Linked DNA regions of Homo sapiens. The protein of the gene in region 5 purifies or fractionates together with the protein of the main gene of each other region. This does not show direct contact. Each region holds a gene or a part of one and is shown on either strand. Other genes may lie near its edges. The genes, in order: OTUD4, SLC25A3, AP3M1, PRKAR1A, AGO3, ECI2 and RBM10.

The links.
Region 1: the proteins of AGO3 (region 5) and OTUD4 purify together in Homo sapiens (affinity purification with mass spectrometry; one study listed by BioGRID and IntAct). This does not show direct contact.
Region 2: the proteins of AGO3 (region 5) and SLC25A3 purify together in Homo sapiens (co-immunoprecipitation; one large-scale study listed by IntAct). This does not show direct contact.
Region 3: the proteins of AGO3 (region 5) and AP3M1 purify together in Homo sapiens (affinity purification with mass spectrometry; 3 studies listed by BioGRID and IntAct, with this or other methods). This does not show direct contact.
Region 4: the proteins of AGO3 (region 5) and PRKAR1A purify together in Homo sapiens (affinity purification with mass spectrometry, with the first as the bait; one large-scale study listed by BioGRID). This does not show direct contact.
Region 6: the proteins of AGO3 (region 5) and ECI2 purify together in Homo sapiens (co-immunoprecipitation; one large-scale study listed by IntAct). This does not show direct contact.
Region 7: the proteins of AGO3 (region 5) and RBM10 purify together in Homo sapiens (co-immunoprecipitation; one large-scale study listed by IntAct). This does not show direct contact.

The regions. Positions count from the first base shown.
Region 1 is NC_000004.12:145,170,590-145,174,089, reverse strand, and holds part of OTUD4 (OTU domain-containing protein 4), read left to right. Parts: intron 1-2,369; coding exon 2,370-2,420; intron 2,421-3,500.
Region 2 is NC_000012.12:98,603,686-98,606,867, forward strand, and holds the end of SLC25A3 (solute carrier family 25 member 3 isoform b precursor), read left to right. Parts: 3' UTR 1-2,682; downstream 2,683-3,182. UniProt on the Homo sapiens protein: Inorganic ion transporter that transports phosphate or copper ions across the mitochondrial inner membrane into the matrix compartment. Mediates proton-coupled symport of phosphate ions necessary for mitochondrial oxidative phosphorylation of ADP to ATP.
Region 3 is NC_000010.11:74,130,329-74,133,828, reverse strand, and holds part of AP3M1 (AP-3 complex subunit mu-1), read left to right. Parts: intron 1-3,500. UniProt on the Homo sapiens protein: Part of the AP-3 complex, an adaptor-related complex which is not clathrin-associated. The complex is associated with the Golgi region as well as more peripheral structures.
Region 4 is NC_000017.11:68,518,930-68,522,429, forward strand, and holds part of PRKAR1A (cAMP-dependent protein kinase type I-alpha regulatory subunit), read left to right. Parts: intron 1-3,500. UniProt on the Homo sapiens protein: Regulatory subunit of the cAMP-dependent protein kinases involved in cAMP signaling in cells.
Region 5 is NC_000001.11:36,042,605-36,046,104, forward strand, and holds part of AGO3 (protein argonaute-3), read left to right. Parts: intron 1-842; coding exon 843-944; intron 945-3,500.
Region 6 is NC_000006.12:4,118,576-4,122,075, reverse strand, and holds part of ECI2 (enoyl-CoA delta isomerase 2), read left to right. Parts: intron 1-29; exon of another isoform or gene 30-127; intron 128-2,800; coding exon 2,801-2,890; intron 2,891-3,500. UniProt on the Homo sapiens protein: Able to isomerize both 3-cis and 3-trans double bonds into the 2-trans form in a range of enoyl-CoA species. Has a preference for 3-trans substrates.
Region 7 is NC_000023.11:47,172,721-47,176,220, reverse strand, and holds part of RBM10 (RNA-binding protein 10), read right to left. Parts: intron 3,094-3,500; coding exon 3,024-3,093; intron 1,203-3,023; coding exon 1,129-1,202; intron 1-1,128. UniProt on the Homo sapiens protein: Binds to ssRNA containing the consensus sequence 5'-AGGUAA-3'. May be involved in post-transcriptional processing, most probably in mRNA splicing. Binds to RNA homopolymers, with a preference for poly(G) and poly(U) and little for poly(A).

The DNA.
Region 1 (3,500 bases), on a different chromosome or scaffold from region 5:
GGTTGCAGTGAGCCGAGTTGCGCCGCTGCACCACAGCCTGGGTGACAGAGTGAGACTCTGTCTCAAAAAAAAAAAAAAAAAAATTCAGACTTGCAGTGTAAAAAATACGCTGAGTGTAAGTAATGCTGAACCCTTAATTTTATCAGAAGGCATTCATAGGTTTTTAATTTTCAGGGTTCAGTGTGAACTCACATGTCAGAACATTATAATTATGTAAGTAGTGATTAATAGTTAATAAAATGTTGTATAACAGCTTAATATAATTTTCTCAGTAGTATGTGAAATAAGATGCCACAGTGACCTGTTTTCATTTTACATTCAAAGTCTTACAGGATTTATTACTTACTGGTTTTAAGACCTAGAATTATGTAATCTGACAACTTTGGGTGTTATTTCCCCCAGTTGACTGGTAGAGAATGTTGATATAATACTTTGCAAATGATAGGCTTGAAACCTTGTTTTATTAAAAAAACCTGGTAACGCAGAGGCTAGATAAGAGAGTGCAGAGGTGTGGTAGAGAAGGGAAGTGGGGAGGTGGAATGGTCTTTAAATTAATTCTTATTAATCATTGGCCCCAGAGGGTAAAACTGTGTTGATAATAATGGACATTGCTAACATTGGTTGAGGTGCTTACTATATGCCAGGCATTAAGTGTTTTGCATATATTTTTTTTAGTCCATATAATTTTTTTTTTTTGAGACAGAGTCTCGCTCTGTCGCCCAGGCTGGAGTGCAGTGGCGCCATCTTGGCTCACTGCAAGCTCCGCCTCCCGGGTTCATGCCATTCTCCTGCCTCAGCCTCCAGTGTAGCTGGGTCTACAGGTGCCTGGCACCATCACGCCAGGCTAATTTTTTGTATTTTTAGTAGAGATGGGGTTTCACCATGTTAGCTAGGATGGTCTCGATCTCCTGACCTCATGCTCTGCCTGCCCCGGCCTCCCAAAGTGCTGGGATTACAGGCGTGAGCCACCGTGCCTGGCCTTAGTCCATATAATTTTATGAGGTATGATCAGAGGTTGAAAGTTCCATGGGGAAAAGTTTCACTTTCCTTTTATGAACCTTCAAGCAGTTTCAGTTGTCCAGAATTGGAAAGAGATGTTGTAGAAAGTATTATGCCTTGTTACTGACATTGTTCAGCCATGGCATAGGTGGACGCTTTCTGCTCAGAAAGGAGACTCTCAGAGAGGATGCAGGCTTGTGTCAGAATTCTGCAGTCTCTAGTAACTTTAAATGGTTCTGTGTTTTTTTTTTCCTTAGACCTATAATCATCTAATACAGAACAGTAGCCCTTTATTGGTGGGCTCTTTAATATATATGGCTCTTTTATTATAAATATCTTTCGAAATTTAAGATATTTTTGGCAATTTGACATTATATAATCTATGAAAGAATCTCAATCTTAAAATCCAAGGGTGCTTAAAAGATTTTATAGACAAGGGAGTATACTTTAATGTCTTTAAGTATATCTCTGCTAAATCAACTGGGACTGTAATTTAAACGCAATTGAATTTGGTGGTTCAACAAATGACTTTTAGAGATTTCTCAAATGAGTGCGATTGCTATTAAAGAAACATAAAAAAGGTTGTGTTATTACACAGCTTGAATAAACTGTTTTTATGTCAAAGTAACAATGAAGCGATGAAGCAAGCTGTATTAGAAAAATTTTGTTGATGCTTCAAAATATTTTTCGCCTTACTAGTTCTCATCGCTCTTTCTAGTATCACTTGAGAGACAATGAGTACTCTTATCTGTATTATTAAGCTATACTATTTCTTAGCTTGTAAGTCAGTCTTTGTTTTATTCCCTTCTACACACTGGTCACTACCAAGTTAAAGCACTGCTTTCATCATATAATTTCTCAGTTCAGAATGTCACCTGAAGTGGCCTTGAATGGCCTTTCTCATCTAGCCTTCAAGTCCTGCCTGGGCTCAAGGCCCTCTGTAAACAGGCCCCCCTTTGGGTTCTTCTCCCACTCAGTTCCACAACAGGTTGTCCTGCTCCAGCTGGCCAGATTGCTTGTCTTCCCAACACAGTGTTCCTCTTCCTCCTCACGCCACATTGGCCCTCTCTGTAGAGTATCAGCTGCCTGTTGCCATCCAGATCCTGTCCAGCATTCATCTTGAGTCACTCTTCTTTCAGGAAACCTTTCCTGACAGAATTTCCTTCTTTAAATTCTTTTGTATGTTTATAGTCTTTAATGATTGCTATATGTTTTCATAATTAGATTATGTACATATTTTTAAATAATACTGAGGTATTTTAGGTTTATGTACAAACTCAGTAATTCACAGTGAATGTTTACACAGCGAAGCGGTTAACTGTTTTGGCATATATGTTAGATGACATTTCTAATAGATTTATTTTTTGCAGTTTATAGAAGGATCATTTGAAGAATATTTAAAGCGTTTGGAAAATCCACAGGTATGTCACAGTCTTCTAGTATATTTCTATTTTTATATATCCAAATAATGTATTTAAAATTCATTAAAATAGAAGATTACTATTACAGTGTATAGAGGAGTTGCAGTGACGGTGTATCCTATTTCCTTATAAACGTTTCCTACACATTTTATGCAGCACTTAAGTTGGAGCTATATGTTAGAGGTTGCCTCACTAAGGCAGAGTTGTGATATTTTATCTTGGCTATAATGGCATGTAAATGTAGTATAAAAATCTGAAATAATACTGGGGTGATGATTTTCAGAATGCTACGTTGGTGTGTGTATGGAACTTGGACAGGGTGAAGTTTGATTTCTTTTTTTTTTTTTTTGAGGTGGAATTTAACTCCATTGCCAGGCTGGAGTGCATGGCATGATCTCGGCTCACTGCAGCCTCCGCCTCCCGAGTTCAAGCGATTTGTCTCCCGAGTATCTGGGACTACAGGCGTGCACCACCATGTCCAGCTAATTTTTTTATTTTTAGTAGAGATGGGGTTTCACCATATTGGCCAGGATGGTCTCGATCTCTCGACCTCGTGATCCGCCTGCCTCAGCCTCCCAAAGTGCTGGGATTACAGGTGTGAGCCACCACACCTGGCCTGCAGAGTTTTTCTTCCTAGGCAACTGAGAAGGCAGAGTTCTTTCATGCAGGTTCCTATTTCCATGATCATCTCGTGAAGAGGGAAGAGACTGTTGAGACAGAAAAGGATAGCACTTACTCACCAACTCCTGCTGCTATACTTTTTCAGTCATGTTTATGTTAAAAGGATTTTTCTTAATTTTTCTGTTTACAAAACTAACGTTCTCACTGTAAAAATCCAAGTATCTTGGAATGCCATTTAGAATGTTAAGGTAAAAATAACATTGGCAAAGAAAAAAGCTAAGAAGAGTTAAGGAGTAAAGGGAATGTAATGTAGGAACCAAGGGTGTTTGATCGATGACTGATGTATCCATTTGGTTGCCTAACACTAATTTGAGTGCTTGTTATGGGCCAAGAATTCCTAGTCACCCTGGGGATGCAGAGATAATGTAGATAACAAAAAAGTTTCCCTATCATAGGAAA
Region 2 (3,182 bases), on a different chromosome or scaffold from region 5:
GGCATTGATACAAAATACGCTGTGTTCAAGCTATGGAGCCTGCCACTGTAGTTACTAGAGTTACGGTTCAAAGCTATTTCTGAGAGAAAGCCACTTCATCCTCAAAACCCAAGAGGCCCACTTAAAGTGATGCGAATTCTCATTTCAGGTTTTTAAATTATACTAAAAGATTCTAGTAAGAAAATTTTAATATGTATGTATTGGTGTTCTTTTTACATTTCATTTAATGAAATGTCTACTGTCAATACGATAAAGCAGAACCCAGTGGAGTAAGAATACACGAAACTGCCAGGCACAGTGGGTCATGCCTGTAAACCCAGCATTCTGGGAGGCCGAGGCGGGTGGATCACCTGAGGTCGGGAGTTCAAGACCAGCCTGACCAACATGGAGAAACCCTGTCTCTACTAAAAATACAAAATTAGCTGCGGTGGTGGTGCGTGCCTGTAATCCCAGCTACTCAGGAGGCTGAGGCAGGAGAATCGCTTGAACCCGGGAGGCGGAGGTTGTGGTGAGCCAAGATTGCGCCATTGCACTCCAGCCTGGGCAACAACAGCGAAACTCTGTCTCAAAAAAAAAAAATATATATATATATATATATATATGAAGCTGATAGTTGAATTATGTTGATTCAGGGACAAGATAGCATTGCATAGTAACTTCCAGTAGGATCAAATATTTTGAGAGTGGTTAAAACGCCAAGGAATCCTGATTTTATGAAATTATGCCTTCTGATAGGTGCAACAAAATTGAACAGAAGAGTAACAGCTTAACTAAACCTCCATTGTGTGAAAGTTTTATGAAATGTTTTGACTTTTTTTTTTTTTTCCCTAGAGAACAGGGTTCTTGCTTTGTCGCCCAGGCTGGAGTACAGCCTTGAACTCCTGGGCTCAAGCGATCCTCCTGCCTCAGCCTCCCAGTTAGCTGACACAATTGGGATGTGCCACTACTTGCTCCTGTTTTTTCATAGACGGGTCCTGCTGTTGCTCAGGCTGGTCTCGGATTCCTGGCCTCAAGCAACTTTCCTGCCCCAGCTCCTAAAGCGGCCAGGGTTACAGGTAGCCGCCTTGTCTGTCCCGTTTCGACCATATTTTATTTTTGAGAAGGTCTTGCTCTGTCGCCAGACTGGAGTGCAGTGGCACGATGATAGCTCACTGCAGCCTCGATCTCCCAAGCTCAAGTGATCCTCCCACCTCAGCCTCTTGAATAACTGGGACTGCAAGTGTGGACCACCATGTCTGGCTAATGTTTTTTATTTTTAGCAGAAATGAGGTCTTGCTATGTTGCCAAGGCTAGTCTTGAACTCCTGAGCTCAAGCGAGCCTTCTGCCTTGGCCTTCCAAAGGGCTGGGATTAGAGGGCTGAGCCACCACACTTGGCCAACCATATTTTATTTTTTATATTTTTATTTTATTTGATCCTTGTTCTGAAACCATAAAGTGAGTTTAACATTTCTGGCTGGGCACAGTGGCTCATGCCTGTAATTCTAACACTTTAGGAGACCAAGGCAGGAGGATGCCTTGAGCCCAGGAGTTTGAGACCATCCTGGACAACATAATGAGAAAAGAAAATACAAAAATTAAGGGGTGTGGTGACACATGCCTGTAGTCTCAACTATTTGGGAGGCTGAGGCAGGAGGATTGCTTGAGCCCGAGAGGTTGAGGCTACAGTGAGCCATGTTTACGCCATTGCAGTCCAGCCTGGGCGACAGAGTGAAACCCTGTCTCAAAAAAAAAGTAACATTTCTATATGATTTTTGGGATCGACATGTCCATAATGTTAATGAAGCGCATAGCAGTCACTAGTAAATTAGGAGTTATACATTGCTTCTATAGCATCAGAAATTGTATATCAGGCCAGGTGCAAAAGCTCACTCCTGAAATCCAAGCACTTTGGGAGGCTGAGGTGGGCGGATTGCTTGAGGTCAGGAGTTCAAGAACAGCCTGGCCAACATGATGAAACCCCAGGTCTCTACTAAAAATACAAAAATTGGTCAGGCATGGTGGTGCATGCCTGTAATTCCAGCTACTCGGGAGGCTGAGGCAGGAGAATTGCTTGAACCCGGGAGGCAGAGGTTGCAGTGAGCCAAGATTGTGCCACTGCACTCCAGCCTGGGCGACAGAGCCAGACTGTCTGAGGAAGAAATTGTATATCAGGCTGGGCACAGTGGCTCATACCCGTAATCCCAGCACTTTGGGAGGCCCAGGCTGGGTATCACTTGAGCCCAGGAGTTGGAGACCAGCCTGGGCAACAAAGTGAGACCCCTCTCTCTACAAAAAATAAATTAGCCAGGCATGGTGGCACGTGCCTGTAATCTCAGCTACTTAGGAAGCTGAAGGAGGATCGTCTGAGCCCAGGAGTTTGAGGCTGCAATGAGCTACAATCACACCCCTGCACTCCGGCCTGGGCGACAGAGTGATAACCTGTCTAAAAAAATAAAAATAAATTGTATAATCATATTGCAATTTTCTTTGCATTACTGATGAGGAAAAATCTCAAAGTAATTGTAAAAAATCCTGGATATCACATAGTTGAGAAACAAAGTTATTTTAAACTTACAGGACTCTGTAGTTCACAGTTGAACACTGTGGCTTCCTGAAATATCAAAGAATAATGTACATTAATAAGCCAGCTACTATCGGCATCTTGTAAAAATTAAAAAATTAAACATAAATAAAAGTTCAAACTATGTGTTGAATCATTTGTCTTTTACAAGCCAGCCCTGACTTCACATTCTCAGAGGTGTTCATAGAAGTGCATGAGATGTTAACCTCACCACTGATAAGGTTTATGAATCTCCTGGTTATTAAGGTGTGACCTGACAAGTTTCCTAGAAAGCAGCTATTCCAGAGTTTTCATGTGTGTTTTTATAGACACTGAAGTGCAGTATGCAATAGTCACTTAATAAGTATTGCTACACTGAATGAAAGAGCCTTGGGGATGTGTCTCTTACACAAGATATAATTCCTACCTAATACTGTGAATAATAATTTGATGTTCAAATCAGCCAGCTTGCTTTGCAGAATCCAGTGTATTGCAAAGTTTGAAGATGGAAAATAATTCATGTGACAGGCCATATCATTATTCCAAGACCCATGATCTTAACACTAGAGGGCTATATTAGTCAAGGTTAAAACTGCTAAATCTCAAGGAAGCATTAACATCTGAAAATATGGTATACCCAAC
Region 3 (3,500 bases), on a different chromosome or scaffold from region 5:
CAAAAAATTAGCCGGGCATGGTGGCGCGCACCTGTAATCCCAGCTACTCGGGAGGCTGAGGCAGGAAAATTGCTTGAACCCAGGAGGCAGAGGTTGCAATGAGACAAGATCATGCCATTGCACTCCAGCCTGGCTCTGTCTCAACAAAAAAAAAAAAAAGAAGAAGAAAGGAAAAGAAAATTGAAGTCCTTTGGCAGTATGGTTTCGGTGGAAAGGCATTCATTATCTGATGATTTTTAAATCTGTTTGTTTATTTATTTATTTATTTGAGACGGGGTCTCACACTGTTGTCCAGGCTGGAGTGCAATCACATGATCTTGGCTCACTGGAACCTTCACCTCCTGGATTCAAGCGATCCTGCTGCTTCAGCTTCCCAAGTAGCTGGGATTACAGGCATGAGCCACCACACCTGGCTAAATTTTTTTTTTTTTTTTGAGACGCAGTTTCACTCTTATTGCCCAGGGTGGAGTGCAATGGTGCAATCTCAGCTCACCGCAACCTCCGCCTCCCGGGTTCAAGCAGTTCTTCTGCCTCAGCCTCCCGAGTACCTGGGATTACAGGCATGCACCAGCATGCCCAGCTAATTTTGTGTTTTTGGTGGAGATGGGATTTCTCCACGTTGGTCAGGCTGGTCTCGAACTCCTGAACTTAGGTGATCTGCCCGTTTCGGCCTCCCAAAGTGTTAGGATTACAGGCGTGAGCCACCGCTCCCGGCCCTGGCTAATTTTTTGTATTTTTAGTAGAGACGGGGTTTCACAATGTTGGCCAGGCTGGTCTCAAGCTCCTAACCTCAAGTGATCCACCTGCCTTGGCCTCCCAAAGGGCTGGGATTACAGGCGTGAGCCACTGCACCTGGCCCATAAATCTGTTTATTTTGCCCATAGGTTACATATAATTTTCATAACCACTAGTTGAGGTCTGCCAAACATGTAAATCAGAACTCATAATGCCTTACTTTAAGCCAATTATTACCCTATGTACCTCTACCTCTTGCTATTTATTCCTTCTAACATTTATTGAAAATCTGCTATATACCATGCTTTTGCTACTACATTATGTGCAGTACTTCTGGTAAAAGCCCCTATCTGATTATTTTTCACTTTCTTTTTTTTTTTTAAGTACAGGGTCTTGCTCTTTTGCCTAGGCTGGAGTGCATTGGCGCAGTCCCTGCTTACTGTAGCCTTGACCTCCAGCTCATGTGATCCTCCTACCTCAAACTCCTGAGTAGCCTATAGTCCCAGCCAATCAGGAGGTACACGCCACACGCCACCATGCCTGGCTAACTTTTATTTGTTTTTTTTGTACAGACAGGGTCTCACCATGTTGCCCAGGCTGGTCTTGAACTCCTGGGCTCAATCAGTTTACCTACCTCAGCCTCCCAAAGTGCTGGGATTACAGGCATCAGCCACCACACCCAATCTGATTATCTTTTTAACCAGACAAAACAATAGTACTCTATAAGAATCGTAAAATTTTATTATTAAAAATAGCAGCCGGGCATGGTGGATCACGCCTGTAATTCCAGCACTTTGGGAGGCCGAGGCAGGCAGATCACTTGAGGTCAGGAGTTTGAGACCAGCCTGGCCAACATGGTAAAACCCCGTCTCTACTATAAATACAAAAATTAGCTGGGCGTGGTGGCAGGCGCCTGTAAACCCAGCTACTTGGGAGGCTGAGGCAGGAGAATTGCTTGACCCTGGGAGGCAGAGGTTGCAGTGAGCCAAGATTGCACCACTGCACTCCAGCCTGGGTGACAGAGTGAGACTCCATCTCTAAAAAAACAAAAAAAGAAAAAAGAAAAAAAATCTAGTCCTTCCTTTACATTTATTTTACACATAAGGAAAGCCCAGAAGGGTTAAGTGAACTGTTCCAGGTCACACAACTTGTTAATATGTAATGATGGCTTATTGTGAATTATAGTCAATATCTTCTCTTCCATGAGTCCCCTTTTCATTATAACATTCCATCTTATAGAATAATAGATTTTTGCCAGGCACGGTGGCTCACACCTGTAATCCCAGCACTTTGGGAGGCTTAGGCAGGAAGATCACTTGAGCCCAGGAGTTCAAGACCAGCCTAGGCAACATAGCAAGACCCCATATCTATCAAAAATTTAAAAGATTAGCTAGGCATGGCTTCCTTAATCCTACCTATTCAGAAGGCTGAGGCAGGAGGATTGCTTGAGCCCAGGAGTTCAATGCTGTGGTGAACTATGTTCACACCACTGTACTCCAGCCTGGATGGCAGAGGGAGACCCTGTCTCTTAAAAAAAAAGAGATATCTTTCTATTATGGATCCTATTTCTTAAAAGTTAACTTAGTCCATTTCATAATACACTTGCCACATTTTAAAATTCTATTGAAGCCGGGCGCGGTGGCTCACACCTGTAATCCCAGCACTTTAGGAGGCTGAGGCGGGTGGATCACGAGGTTAGGAGATCCAGACCATCCTGGCTAACACAGTGAAACCCCATCTCTACTAAAAATACAAAAAATTAGCTGGGTGTGGTGGCAGGCGCCTGTAGTCCCAGCTACTCGAGAGACTGAGGCAGGAGAATGGCGTGAACCCGGGAGACAGAGCTTGCAGTGAGCCCAGATAGCGCCACTGCACTCCATCCAGCCTGGGTGACAGAGCAAGACTCCGTCTCAAAAAAAAAATTAAAAAAAAATAAAATTCTATTGAAAATGGTTTTGGTTGGTTTGTTTTATTTTGTTTTTGAGACAGAGTCTCACATTGTCGCCCAGGCTGTAGTGCAGTGTTGTGGTTTCAGCTCACTGCAACCTCCGCCTTCTACGTTCAAGCGATTCTCCTGCCTCAGCCTCCCAAGTAGCTGGGACTACACGCACACACCACCACGCCTGGCTAATTTTTTGTATTTTTAGTAGAAACGGGGTTTTGCCATGTTGCCCAGGCTGGTCCCAAACTCCTGAGCTCAGATAATCTACCCACGTCAGCCTCCCTAAGTGCTAGGATTACAGGCATGAGCCACTGCGTCCTGCCAAATGTTTTAAACTCATATCCAGTCATCTTACAGGGTTGGCTCCATAAAGGAAACAGTTTAATTTTCCTTAGAATTAGCATATTCTGGCTGGGTATGGTAGCTCACACCTGTAATCCCAGCACTTTGGGAAGCTAAGGTAGGCGGATTGCTTGAGCCCAGAAGTTTGAGACCAGCCTGGGCAACATAACAAGACCCTGTCTCTACAAAAAAAATACAAAAATTAGCCAGGCGTGGAGGTGCATGCCTGTAGTACCAGCTGCTTGGGAGGCTGAGGTGGGAGGATTGCTTGAGCCCAGGAGGTTGAGGCTGGCTATCATAGCACCACTACGCTCCAGCCTGGGTGACAGAGCAAGACCCTGTCTCAAAAAAAAAAAAATTATATTCTACAGTGGCATACCTGTAGTCTCAGTTACTCTGGGGACCAGCTGGGACTAGCTAGTCAGACTTTATCTCTTAAAAATAAAAGAATTATTATTATATTCCAGCCAGAGTTAAGTAT
Region 4 (3,500 bases), on a different chromosome or scaffold from region 5:
AAATACTGCCAGTCTCTTTGCATAGCGAGAGTCACCTTTACTCCAGTTCTCAAGTTCCTCATCTCCATCTGAGACCACCTTAGCCTGGACTTCATTGTCCATATTACTATCAGCATTTTGGTCAAAGCCGTACAAGAAATCTCTAGGAAGTTCCAAACTTTCCCACATTTTCCTGTCTTCTTCTGAGCCCTCCAGACTGTTCCACCCTCTTCCTGTTACCCAGTTCCAAAGTTGCTTCTGCATTTTTGGGTATCCTTGTAACAGCACCCCACGCTCTGTGTACCATTTTACTGTATTAGTCTGTTCTCATGCTGCTAATAAAAGACATACCCAAGACTGGGTAATTTATAAAGGAAAGTGGTTTGACTCACAGTTCCTCATGGCTGGGCAGGCCTCGGGAAGCTACAATCATGGCAGAAGGGGAAGCAAACACATTCTTCTTCACATGGCAGCAGCAAGGAGAAGGGTCAAGCAAAAGGGGGAAAAGCCCCTCAAAACTGTCAGATGTCATGAGAGCTCACTATCACCAGAACAGCATGGAGGTAACCACCCCTGTGATTAAATTACCTCCCACCAGGTCCCTCCCACAATATGTGGGGATTATGGGAACTATAATTCAAGATGAGATTTGGGTGGGGACACAGCCAAACCATATCAGTCTGAAAATACAGTCATATTCTCATCACCTTCTTCGTCATTACTGGGGGGTTGTGTTTCTGTTACCTTCAACTACTCCATAAGAAATGTACCAAAAACTCTTGACAGTTGGTCTTTTGAAAGCTTCTGCATTTTAATTCAGTCATCTGGAATTTGAGTCTTCTTTTACTCTTGTATTTATTAGACCCTTAGGTAAGAGGAATTAAAATAACAGTGACCTTGTGTCTGCTGTGTCAGGTACTGTGTGAAGCACTTTATATACATAAATACTCGTTATTTCAAATGTACGAGGTATGTGATTTTCAGCATTTTATAGACATAGCAGTAAAACTGAGAGAAATTAAGTAATGTGGCTGTGGTTATAGACTGTAGTCGTCAGCTTTTGCTGGAGCAACATACAACCCCCAAATTTCAGTGGTTACTACAACAGACCAGTCATGTGCAGTTCTTCTGGTATCAGCCTGTCTTATGTTCTTGACACCACATATCTTGTTCTGGGGCTGAGCAGAAGGAGCAGCCCTATATAGGGCATGCTGTTCTCAAAGCAGAGGGAGGGCAGAAGCTCAAGGTGGACAGAGCCAAACCACACAGGCAACCATGGTATGGCATGTCCACTTACATTCCATGGCCAGAGCAAGTCCTGTAGCCAAGCCTTAAGTCAGTGGGGTGGGAAGTATACTTTACCCACAGGGAAGAGTGACAGAAGCAGGGAGGGAACAAATAATCGGGAAAACATAGTAGTGGGGACAGAATTTGAACCTAAGAGTCAAGAAGATAGTGCAGAATTTAATGCAAAACCGAATGCAGAATTTGAACCTCAGAGTCAAGAACATAATTAACCACTGAGTAGACTGGGAGGTTTTTTCTAATTTTTAATTTTTTATTGATATATAACATTTGTATGTTTTTATGGAGTACATGTGATATTTTACAGGCATAGAATGTGTAATGATCACGTCAAGGTATTTAGGTTATTCATCACCTCACTTAAAGAGCTGAGGAGGAAGGAGACTGACAGAAGGATGACAACAGCAAGAGAAAGGATATAAAAATATATCATAGTATATACTAGAAAACTCATGATCTGAGTAATGGCTCTGAGTTGTCAGATTAGGTTATATTCAGATTGCTGTTTTTAAAAGACTCACTAGAATCCATGAGACACTGCTAAAATCAGAATGCTTTTGTTACTTCAAAATTAATCTTAAAAATTCAGTGAAGTAGAATGTAGTCCCAAGTGAAATGTTATTTGTGAAATTTTTCCTGAAATTTTTGTGAAATGTCAGTGACAAATTTGGGGGTGGGAGAATTTGTGTTTTCATTTATACTCTTAAACTGTGTGTGTGTTTTATTTTATTTTTATTATTATTTTTTTGAGACAGTCTTGCTCTGTCACCCAGGCTGGACTGCAGTGGTGCAATCTCGGCTCACTGCAACCTCTGCCTCCTGGGTTCAGGCGATTCTCCTGCCTCTGCCTCCTGAGTAGCTGGGGCTACAGGTGCCTGCCACCACACCTGGCTAATTTTTGTATTTTTAGTAGAGATGGGGTTTCACCATAATGGCCAGTCTGGTCTTGAACTCCTGACCTTGTGGTCTGCCCACCTTGGCCTCCCGAAGTGTTGGGATTACAGGTGTGAGCCACCATGCCTGGCCTATTTTTTGAGACAGGATCTCACTCTGTTGCCCAGGCCTGAGTGCAGTGGTGCGATCATGGCTCACTGCAGTCTCTACCTTCCAGGCTCAGGTGATCCTCCTGCCTCAGCTTCCCAAGTAGCTGGGACTACAGGTGTGTGCCACCACGCCCAACTAATTTTTATGTGTTTTTGTAGAGATGAGGTTTTACAATGTTGCCTAGGCGGGTCTCGAACTCCTGGACTCAAGTGATCTGCCACCTTCGGCCTCCCAAAGGGTTGTGATTATAGGCGTAAGCCACTGTACCCAGTCATGTATTCTTAAACTTTAAACTTGGGAGAGACTTGAGTTTTATACCTGTGTTAATATGAAATGAGAAAACCTTACTGGTTATTGGAACAACCAGAATTAACATGAAATGAGTTTTCTAAAAACCATATTTTAAAAAGTAGGTTACATATTCACATATTTCAAAGTTGTGCAGGTACAAAGGGGCATAATAATGAAAGGTCTCCCTCCCACGCCATTGCTTTTCTTGAATGCTGCCAATGTTCTGGAGATTAATATATGGGCACTTACAAATTTATATATAGAAAAGAAATAACGGGTCAAATGAATGAGAAAGTAGAAGATAACACATTTTTATTTTTTCCCTTTTACTTCAGGCACAACAACTAATTCTTTAGATCTGAGAGGAATTTGTTTTTAAGGCTCTAGATGTGAAAAAAGGAATGTTTAATAGTTTATCTTAGGTTTTATTTGAATTGGTCCAATAAGTAGTTTTTAAAAGCAAGTAAACTCTTTTTGTCTTTTAACTTCAAGTTTAAACCTTGATTACAAAGAGTGATCCTAGCTCTGCTGGGAGAAGTATTATAGATACGATCTCGTTTAAATTCGTGGTTACCATCACATCATTTCATTATTTGTTTTTATCTGGGATCAAACTGGAATGTGAATTCCACAGGCTCAGGACCCTCTCCTATTTGTTTTTAATTTCCTGTTGCCTAGCATAGGTCTTGGCCTGGCAGATCCAGAAAATGGCTTATTGAGTTAATGAAATAACTCAGTAATCTAGACATTCTTGGATCACTATGTTGGGCTTGAATTGTTTTTCCTGATAACATTTCTTTTGGCAGGAGGGTCTCTTGCTATCTGCAGTAGCATCCAAAAAAACCCAATTTTCAGGATTTTGTCTTGCAGTGTGTTACTGT
Region 5 (3,500 bases):
TGATTTGCTAGCCTTGTAAACCTAGACTTACAGTTAATGATTTTAAATGTGTTGGGATAAGGCGGTGGAGGTGGGTATAATAAACATTTTTAAGTGTTTTATAAGGAGCTTGTATCATCAAGAATTTTGGGTCATTTCAGTTATATTATATCCACTCAGAGAAAATCATGGTGTCCTCTTACAAGATGTTGAAACTGATAGTATGAAATAAAAGGAATAAGGCCTTTGCAATTATTTCATTGTTTGAATCCCAGTTCTGCCCTTTATTGTGTGCTATTGAGCAAATTATTTTGTATTCCTGAGCCTTTATTTCCCTAAACAAATGGAAATAATCCCTAACTTGCAGGATTGTTACCAGGTTTTAGAAATAATGTGTTCAAAGTGCCTGATCCATAAATGGTTAACAAATGGTGTGACTGTTGTTGATCTTGTCAGCATTCTCTCTCTCTAAACATCTAGTTTTCTCCAAGGTAAATGCTGATCTTCATAAATCACACGTTCAAGAATACCTACTATGCACAGGTACCATAAATTGGAGCACTTTAAGTTAATTTAAAAAAAATTTTTTTTAGTGTCTTCCACCCATAGTGGGGTCAACTATCAGCTAAGCAGTAGTAGAGACTGTATTAGGTTTTGTTGTGTATCAGCGCTCACTTTCAGCAACATGTAAGAATAGGAACTAGGACCTGCGTAGTCTGCTCTGAATGACTGCTTAAGTCATATTTCAAGGTGAAAGTAGTGAAATGTAGGATCAGCCTATGTATTCATACATTTTTTAAAGTGCTTTCAGATATATTTTTACCTTTTTCTTGTTTGTTTAAACTTTAACCAAACAAATCTAGGTTGGAAGAAGTGGCAATATCCCAGCTGGAACAACAGTTGATACAGACATTACACACCCATATGAGTTCGATTTTTACCTCTGTAGCCATGCTGGAATACAGGTAAGCCTACACTTTGGGTAAAATATTTTAATTCAAGAACTGTCATTCTTACGTGTATTTTTTAAATCTCAGAAAAAGGATAAAGAAATACTCTTTGCATTCCAAATTGTTTCCACATGAAATTAGATGAAACTTTCAGTAAACAAATGTCTTCCCTTTCCTTACCTTGAGAGGGGCTTAGGAACTTATTTTTATGAAAATACCAGAATATAAGTAGTTTAATAGAATGAATCTCCCTAAAACAGGCCCTTAATTTCACTAAAATGTTAAAAAATGTGAAAGTACCTGATTGTTCCTTTAGCATATGCATCTTTAAAAAAAAAAGAGAGAGAGAGAAAGAGAAAGCACTATTTTGCTCAGGCTAGACTAGAACTCTTGGGCTCAAGCAGTCCTCCCACCTCAGCCTCCCAAGTAGTTGGGACAACAGGCCTCCACACTCAGCTAATGACGATAACATTTTATAGAAAACTTTGACATGTACTAGTAGTATTAAGCATGTGAAAGAGTTTAATTGGGCTGGGCATGGTGGCTCACGCCTATAATTCCAACACTTTGGGAGGCTGAGATGGGCAGATTGCTTGAGTTCAGGAGTTTGAGACCAGCCTGGGCAACATAGAGAAACCCCGTCTCTACAAAAAATATAAAAATTAGCCAGGTGTGGTAGCACGTGCCTGTAGTCTCAGCTATTCAGGAGGCTGTCGTGGGAGGATCACTTGAGCGCGGAGGCAGAGGGAGGTTGCCATGAGCCAAAATCATGCCACTGCACTCCAGGCTAGGTGACGGAGCCAGACCTTGTCTCAAAAAATAAAAAAAAATTTAATTGTAGAATTACAGCTTTAGTTTTTTTTTGTTGTTGTTGTTGTTTTGTTTTGTTTGTTTGTTTGTTTGTTTTTGAGACAGAGTCTCACTCTGTTGCCCAGGCTGGAGTACAGTGGCATGATCTCGGCTCACTGCAAGCTCCGCCTCCCAGGTTCAAGTGACTCTCATGCCTCAGCCTCCCTAGTAGCTGGGATTACAGACTGAGATTACTGGGTGCCACCACACCCAGTAATTTTTTTATTTTTATTTTTTCTAGTAGAGACAGGGTTTCACCATGTTGGCCAGGCTGGTCTCAAACTCCTGACCTCAAGTAATCCGCCCACCTTGGCCTCCCAAAGTGCGGGGATTACAGGCTTGAGCCACTGCACCTGGCCTTAAGTTTCAGTTAAATAATTTAAAAAGTTTTTCTTATTCTTTCCAGAAAACCTTTTCATTAATGTGTTAGCTTTACTTGGTGGAACATAAGCTTTAAATCAGTGCATCTCAAACTTTCCAACAACAAAAAGTAAACTGACATTCCCAGGATGTCTGAGAGTCTATAACCCAAAACTATTTTAGGTTACTTGCCATTATTGATTAAGATAGAAATTTCCAGATGTACCTTACCATACAGCTCTGTATCTTATAGCTTTATATGTCCCACATATACGAACCTGTTTCAGATTCATGGCTTTAAATTATTGTCTGACTCATTTATCCATGTTCTTATATCAGCTCCTCTTTACAATTAATGTTGTACATTTTCAGGGTTGGTGGTTAATGGGAGGTCCAGAGGAAGTGATGTCAGCAAGATGGCTGACTAGAAGCCCCTAGTGCTTGCTCCCCTCACAAAGAAAGCCAGAAAAACAGATAAACAACTACATTTTTTTTTTTTAACGGAGTCTCACTCTGTCACCCAGGCTGGAGTACAGTAGTGTGATCTTGGCTCACTGCAACCTCTGTCTCCCAGGTTCAAGCAATTCTCCTGCCTCAGCCTCCCAAGTAGCTGGGACTACAGGCACCCACCACCATGCCGAGCTAATTTTTGCATTTTTAGTAGAGATGGGATTTCACCATGATGGCCAGGCTGGTGTCGAACTCCTGACCTCAGGCAATCCGCCCACCTCAGCCTACCAAAGTGCTGGGATTACAGACATGAGCCACCATGTCCGACCTTTTTTTTTTTTGAGATGGAGTTTTGCTTTTGTCGCCCACGCTAGAGTGTAATGGCGTGATCCCAGGCTAGAGTGTAATGGCGTGATCTCAGCTCACTGCAATCTCCACCTCCCAGGTTCAAGCGATTCTTCTGCCTCAGCCTCCGGAGTAGCTGGAATTATAGGCTTCTGCCACCACACGCGGCTAATTTTTATATTTTTAGTAGAGATGAGGTTTCACCATGTTGGCCAGGATGGTCTTGAACTCCTGACCTCCGGCGATCCACTTGCCTCAGCCTCTCAAAGTGCTGGGATTGTAGGCATGAATCACTGCACTGGGCCAAACAACTATATTTTAATGAAAATAACTGAGGGAGAGCCCTGGAGTGCATCAGAGGAGTAACAGAAACCCTGGTGAGCACAGAAACTCGGGATGACCACACAGAGAACAGAAAGAAACACTGAGCCTCCACTACTCCATCTCCAAATCAGGATCAGCTGGGAACCAGGAGGAACTTCTCCCTGCAGTGAACAGATAAGCAAGAGGATCCCAGCAATCCCCATCAACACCTTGGACACCTACACTGGGGTCCCCAGCACTGTT
Region 6 (3,500 bases), on a different chromosome or scaffold from region 5:
ATGCTGCTTACTGGCAACTTTGCATGTACCTGTTTGTGTCCCTTTAGCTGTTGTTGGCAGGTTTCTCAGTTTCCTGCTTGTATTCCTTAGGCTGTGTCTTCTGGGTACATTTTTTTGAATAAGTTTTCTTTTGGATAAAAAAAGAAGATACATGACATTAACAGAAACTTTTAAAAATATTGTGATTATTTTTATGTATATGCTGCATATGTTATAGATTTATATCTTCTAACAGTTATATAGTAAAAACAACAGCGTGTCTGATTATAGGAAATGAAATCTAAATATTCTTTTACATATTATGAATTTTAAATTAACATTCTTTCATAATTTATTCATTAAGAAACACAAAAATATGTCTTAAATGTAAAAAAAAAAAAAACTAAAAATGACTATATACTAAATAACCAATATTGAATTAATTCCAGTAGTTAAAGCCAACCAAAAAAACCACTGGGGCAAAATCAAGACAAATGACAGATTGAGGAAACAATTTTTCAACTCATGTAACAAAAGCTGATCTCTCCACGATACTTTTTAAAGTTTGTCTATAAAGCGATAGATCCACAAGCTAAAATAAAAATGGGCAATGGTGAGGAATGAATAGGTCAGACAAAATGAAATATAAAGGGCTATTAAAACCATATGAGAGAAACCACTGAGAAAATGAAAAGATAAGCCATAGACCAGGAGAAAAGATTTGCCTGACGCTCTAATAAAAGACTTGCAATCTGAATGTGTATCTTACAACTATATAATAGGAAGGTAAACAGCCTAACTTAAAAAAATAGTGGAGAAAATATCTTAACAGTTGCTTCACCAAAGAAAATATACGTATGTCTAATAAGTACATGGTAAGAGACTTAATACCATTAATGGTTAGGGACATGTAAATTAAAACCACAGTGAGACCCCACTACATACATACTAGCATGGTTAAAATGAAAAAGACTTAATAGCTAGGTTTAGTGAGGATGTGGAGCAATTGGAACTTTCATACATTGCTGGTGGGAATGTCAAATGGTACAACCACTCTAGAAAACAGTCTAGCAGCTTCTGAGCTAAATATACATTTACCACACAGACCAGCCATACCACTTAGGTATTTACCTATGATAATTTAAAAGAGATTCACCCAGTGACCTGTACACAAGTGTTCCTAACTGCCTTTTTGTTAACATTATCTGAACATTTTTATTTTTAAATTTTTTTTCAGTTTCATTGAGGTATACTTGACAAATAAGAATTGTACAGTCAGGTGCTGCATAACAACATTTTAGTCAATGGCAGACTGCATGTAAAACGCTGGTCTCCTAAGATTATAACACCATATCTTACTATACCTTTTCTTTTTTTTTTTTCACTCTGTCATCCAGGCTGGAGTACAGTGGCATGATCTCGGCTCACTGCAGCCTCCTCCTCCCGGGTTCAAGCAATTCTTGTGCCTCAGCCTCCCGAGTAGCTGGGACTCCAGGTGCACACCACCACACCAGGCTAATTTTTGTATTTTTAGTAGAGATGGGGTTTCACTACGTTGGCCAGGCTGGTCTCGAACTGCTGACCTCAGGTGATTTGCCCACCTCTGCCTCCCAAAGTGTTGGGATTACAGGCATGAGCCACCACACCCGGCCTACCTTTTCTATGTTTGATATATTTAGATACACAAATGCCATTTGTTATAACTGCCTAGAGTATTAAGTATAGTAACATGCTGTCCAAGTTGGTAGCCTGGAAGCAGTAGGGATTACCACATAGCTAGGTGTGCAGTAGGCTGTGGCATCCAAGTATATGTAAGTATACTCCATGATATTGGCACAATGACAAAATTGCCTAATTATGCATTTCTCAGAACATATCCCCATTGTTAAGCAACACACGACTAGATATATTTAAGGTGTTCAACTTGTTTTTCATAGCAGCCTTCTTCATAGTAGCCTTTCATACGTTGCTAGTGGCAGTGTCAAATGGTACAACCATTTGAATGCTAGAAACAACACCAATGGCATTAACTGGTGAATGATAAACATATTATTGTGCATCCATACAAAGGAATACTACTCAGAAATAGCGAGGAACAAACTACTAATACATACAACAGCATGGTGACTCTCAGAAGTCAGACTCAAAATGCTACAGAATGTAGGATTCCACTTATACAGCATTCTATAAAAGTCAAAACTGTAGGGACAGAAAACAGATTAGCAGTTGCTTGGGGGTGGGAGGGAGGGACTGACTACAGAAGGGCCCCCGGAACCTTTCAGGGTGGCTGAAATGTTCCGCATGTCAGTAGTGGTGGTGGCTATGTAACTCTCTATTTGTTCAAACTCATCCAACTATACACTTTTAAAGGGTGAATTGTGTGTGCATATTAACCACATAATCTTAATTTTTAAATAAATATTATTAAGTATTGTGAAGTTATAAGCAAATCGTGATTTTTAAAAATAACACATGAAGCCAGGCATGGTGGCTCACGCCTGTGATCCTAGCACTTTGGGAGGCCGAGGCAGGTGGATCACCTGAGGTAAGAAGTTTGAAACCAACCTGGCCAACAGGGCGAAACCCCGTCTCTACGAAAAATACAAAAATTAGCCAGGCATGGCAGCGCATGCCTGTAATCGTAGCTGCTGTGGAGGCTGAGGCAGGAGAATCGCTTGAACCCAAGGGGTGGAGGTTGCAGTGAGCCGAGATCGCGCCACTTCACTGCAGCCTGGGCAAAAGAGCGAAACCCTTTGTCTCAAAAAAAAAAAAAAAAATCACACATGAAAAGATGGTTTTCTTTTCTCTCCTGCCTCTGCAGGCAACATTTCATACACCATTTAGTCACCTAGGCCAAAGTCCGGAAGGATGCTCCTCTTACACTTTTCCGAAGATAATGAGCCCAGCCAAGGTAACTTTTGGAATGTTTAAATATAAAATTTTATGAGTCATCTCAAGAAAGAAGGAAGAGTAATCTCATATACTCTCCCTTCTTTCCCTTGGTAATATGGACAAAAGAGAAGCTAATGATTTGCTTTTCAACTCTTTAAGAGTTTTACCAATGGAGGAATCAGGCTATGGGAAGTATCTGCTATGCAGGAAAATTAGAAATTCTCTCTGCAGTTCCCAGAACTGGGATCCTCCTCTTCAGCTGGCTGCTTAGTGCTAGCTGCACTGCAAGCAGCACAGCACCTCAGCCTTGCAGCTGTGTGGCATTAGTCACTTGAAGGACCAGGGCTGTGCCAGCCTCCCTTGGTCCCCTGAGTTTGGAGGCCACTCGGTTCCTTTATGGATGACCAGTATCTCCTAAGGAGAGACATGATGACGTCTTCACTTTCAGAGTTACAGTAAGTACCAACAGATGGGAGGTTTTGTGGGGGCTCACGGCTGCCAGAGCCACCCCCAATCACAGCAGCCCTTCCATCAGCCTGCTCACGGGTGTATTCTCTCCCAGGCTGGTTAAGTGGCTGCTCAGGTCTTTCACTGTGTTTCCTAGTTGCCCACGCCCTGTGGCATGACTC
Region 7 (3,500 bases), on a different chromosome or scaffold from region 5:
GTGGGGAGAAACCCCCACTCGGCCCTGACACTGCCAGGCCACACCCAGGGCCAGGACTACACAGGCTACACTTGGGGGGTGAGGGGAGACAGGGAGGGGGAGGGAGAGGGGAGAAAAAGAGAAAGAGAGCGCAGGTGCGCTAGTGCTGGAGAAGGGGAAAAAGAAAGAGCCATTTCGAACAGATGGAAGTTTCTGCCATGAGGCCGTCTTCCCATGGATGGCTGGGTCCTGGGCCCATGGCACTAGCCTACCAACCCCGAGGAGACGGCCCCAGGGCTGCCTCTGCCGGGATCCCCCATTCTACCACCTCTGCCCCTTCCTCCCCTGAAACTGCTCTCCAGTGCCCTACACCAGGGATCTGGGCAGGGGTGGGTGACCAGGCAGATCTTTGGGTCTCGGAGGTCCCAAAGCTGCTGAGTTGGGATCCCGTGCCAGGCTTGGGGGACAGGCTCCCCCCAGGGCTGACTGTGCACAGGTCCTTGCCGAGAAGACAGAGCTGCCTGAGGTGGTGCCTCCTGCGAGTGTGGAGATGTGATAGGAAGGGTAGGGGCGGCGAAGTGAGGCCAGGGTGTCGATAAAACTATCATACTCGACGGGAACTTGAGATCAACAGAGCAGTGCTGTCCCCTTGCATGAAAATCAAAGGGCCAAATTCACATGCAGGGATGGGGCTGACAAAATGAGTCTTGCTAGTGACTGTGCCAATAGCTAAGCTCCTCACTGGCAGGACTTCCAGTGGTCCTGAGGGTGGAATGAGGTCCTGGCTCTGGCTAACCCCAGAGAGGGGTGCCCCCCCCACCAGCCCCGGGGGAGTGGGAAGCTAGGTGAAAGAACCCACCCTGGCAGCTCTTTCTCTGAACGCTCAGCTGGGAGAGGTGAAGGGGCAGCACTAGTGCCTGGTGGTAGGAAGGGGCCAGTGGTGAGTGTGGGCTCTGGATGAGAAGCCCAGTGGGGTAGCGAGAGATGGGAAGAGGAGATAGTGAGGGTCAGGAAGGGGAGAGAGGGGGCGGGGGGATGGGACACAGGGCCACAGGGCAGGGAACTGTGTCCATAAGAATCAGGCGATGGGGAGCGCTCGATTACAAAGTAGTATTTGTTTGGGGGGGGGTTCAAGTGCGGCAAAGCAACCTGATTGGCTTCCATCCATCGTGTAGCGTCCTGCAAGTGACTAAACTCGACGAAGGCGAAGCCCCGGCTCTGACCTGGAGACAGCATTCAGATACAGACGCAGTGGGTTAGTCAACAGCTTTGGACACACGGCGTTCCCGGGGGCGGGACCCGAGGGGAGAGGACGGGGGGCAGAGAGGGAAAGGGGAAGAGGAAAAAGGAAGAAAGAGAAAGAGGCAATCAGAGAGAGAAAGACTAGCGGGCGTGGGGGGCAAGGTAGATGGCCAGGTGGGGCAGGGAAGGTGGAGGGAGAAAAACAGAGGCCAGAGGTCGGTAGGGGGAGAGACACACACACCAACTGGGAAGAGAGAGATGGGGCTCGGGCAGACCTGCCCAGCCAGCCTGGGGTGACAGAGACGGAGAGAAGCAGCTGGGAGGGAAAGAATACGAGAGATCTGCCTCCAAAGAAGGAGGGAGGGGATGGTGGGCAGGCTGCTGGCTCCACACAAGCCACAATACGTAACTCCAGGGCGGGCCCAGCTCAAGGCCAGGGGTGCCCAGGAGGGGTCCTGTAACAGGTGTTGAATCACAGGAGCAAAAGAGAAGCTGGGCCAGGCTGCTCTGCGAGGCTAGGAAGGCTCTTGGCCCATTGGAAACCAGGGGCGGTTAAAGACACGACCTCATCTCAGCCTCACCGCAGCGCAGGGGAGGCGGGCCTCGCTAGGGAGCCACCTCAGGGCCACAGGGTGGAGACTACAGCCACAAACAGTCCAGGTTCCCCTGGACAAAAGGAGAATGGTGGCCAGGATTGGCCAGGAGGACCTTAGAGGTAAGAATCAATGGGTGCCTGGGAGAAGCGCCCAGGGCCATTGAGAAGGCCGCACCTGGAACACCTCCTTGTGGAGAGAGAGACCCAGAAGCTGTCCGTGTGTGGTGTAGTTGGGGTGATGCAGAGCAAGACCTACATGCAACCAAGATTCCAGGCTTGGGAAAGGGATTCAGGGTTGAGGCCTCAGGATAGCATGTCCTTTAGAGGCAGATACATGGGGAGGGCTTGGATGAGAGGGGCTTGGGGGGGCATGCTTAATGTTCAAAAGAATAACCGTTAGGATGCATAGGAGGATGGAATGAATAATATAGTTGGGGGGGGCAGAGAGAGAGAAAGAGAGAGAGGGAGAAAGAGAGAGAGAGAGAGAGAGAGAGAGAGAGAGAGAGAGAGAGAGATGGAGGTGTGGGGAGGAGAGACTGAGAGATGGAGAGAGAAGCCCAGGCAGAGTGAGGCCCCACTGTGCCTGCCTTGGGGAGCCTGGGCAGAGGTCCTGTAGAGACAACTCCCCCCACCACCACCCTGCTAACCTCAGGCCAGCTCCAAGCAGCCTGCAAGAGGGAGGGAGGGAGGGAACAGGCGAGGCCAGGAAGTCCTGGCTGTTCCTTGGGATGTGTCCTTGGATAAGAGCCATCCCCTGCTTCCCCCTTGGGACACACATGTGGGACCACCACGTCAGAGCTACTTTCTGGTCAGAGGCTGTTACCAAAAAATGTGGGGGAAAGTGAGGGGCAGAGGAAGGAGAAGAAAGGAGAGGGAAGGGAGTGTATGGGAGGGGGTTACCATCTCAGATACTCAGAGTCCCAGAGAGGAGGTGCCTGGGAGCCTGGCCCTGGCCCTGACCCCAGGGAGCACCCAGCTCAGCTCAGAGCTGCACCCCTGCCCCGACAGCCCCATTGAAGAGGCTTTTGGCTGGAGCTGTGAGGAGAGTGTGGGGAGTGGGAGAGAAGAGAGGGCACCCCCCACGCTGCCCATTCCCAGCTGTGGCAGGAAGGTGGTGGAGGGAGTGGGGGAGAAGGCAGAGGCAGGAGGGAGATTCGGAGGCTGAGGCTGGCCACTTGAAGGGGAGGGCACTAGAACAAAAGCTCACCTGAAGATTTGTTCCGCATCAGCCGAACCTCCCGTGCTTGCACGCCGTGCGACTGCAGCTGGCCACGGATCTATACGGGGAGATACAGAGTAGGGCAGGCTCAGCACAATGGGGCCGCTGGGTACCTGAGGCTGGCTGGAGGCCTCTGGATCCCGAGGGGTCATCGGTGATGTGCACACAGTCTCCTCCGCCTCTTTCGCAGCTTTTCCCTGAGTGACAACAGCCCCAGGCCCACACCAGTTCACAGTCTTGACTTTCAGCCCCAGACTTGCAGAAAGTGAATCAAATGAAGAAATGGGCACAGAGCAAGGTAAAGCATGGCAGCAGGACGACCCTCAGGGGCACAGAGAACAAGAGAGCAAGTGAGCCAGCCACTTAAGAACGGTGGGCAGGGTGATCTGACAAAGGGCTCGCTGGCAGCCACGAAGTAAGGAAACCTGGGATGCAATTCTTGCCCTTGGCAAGGGGATAACCCGC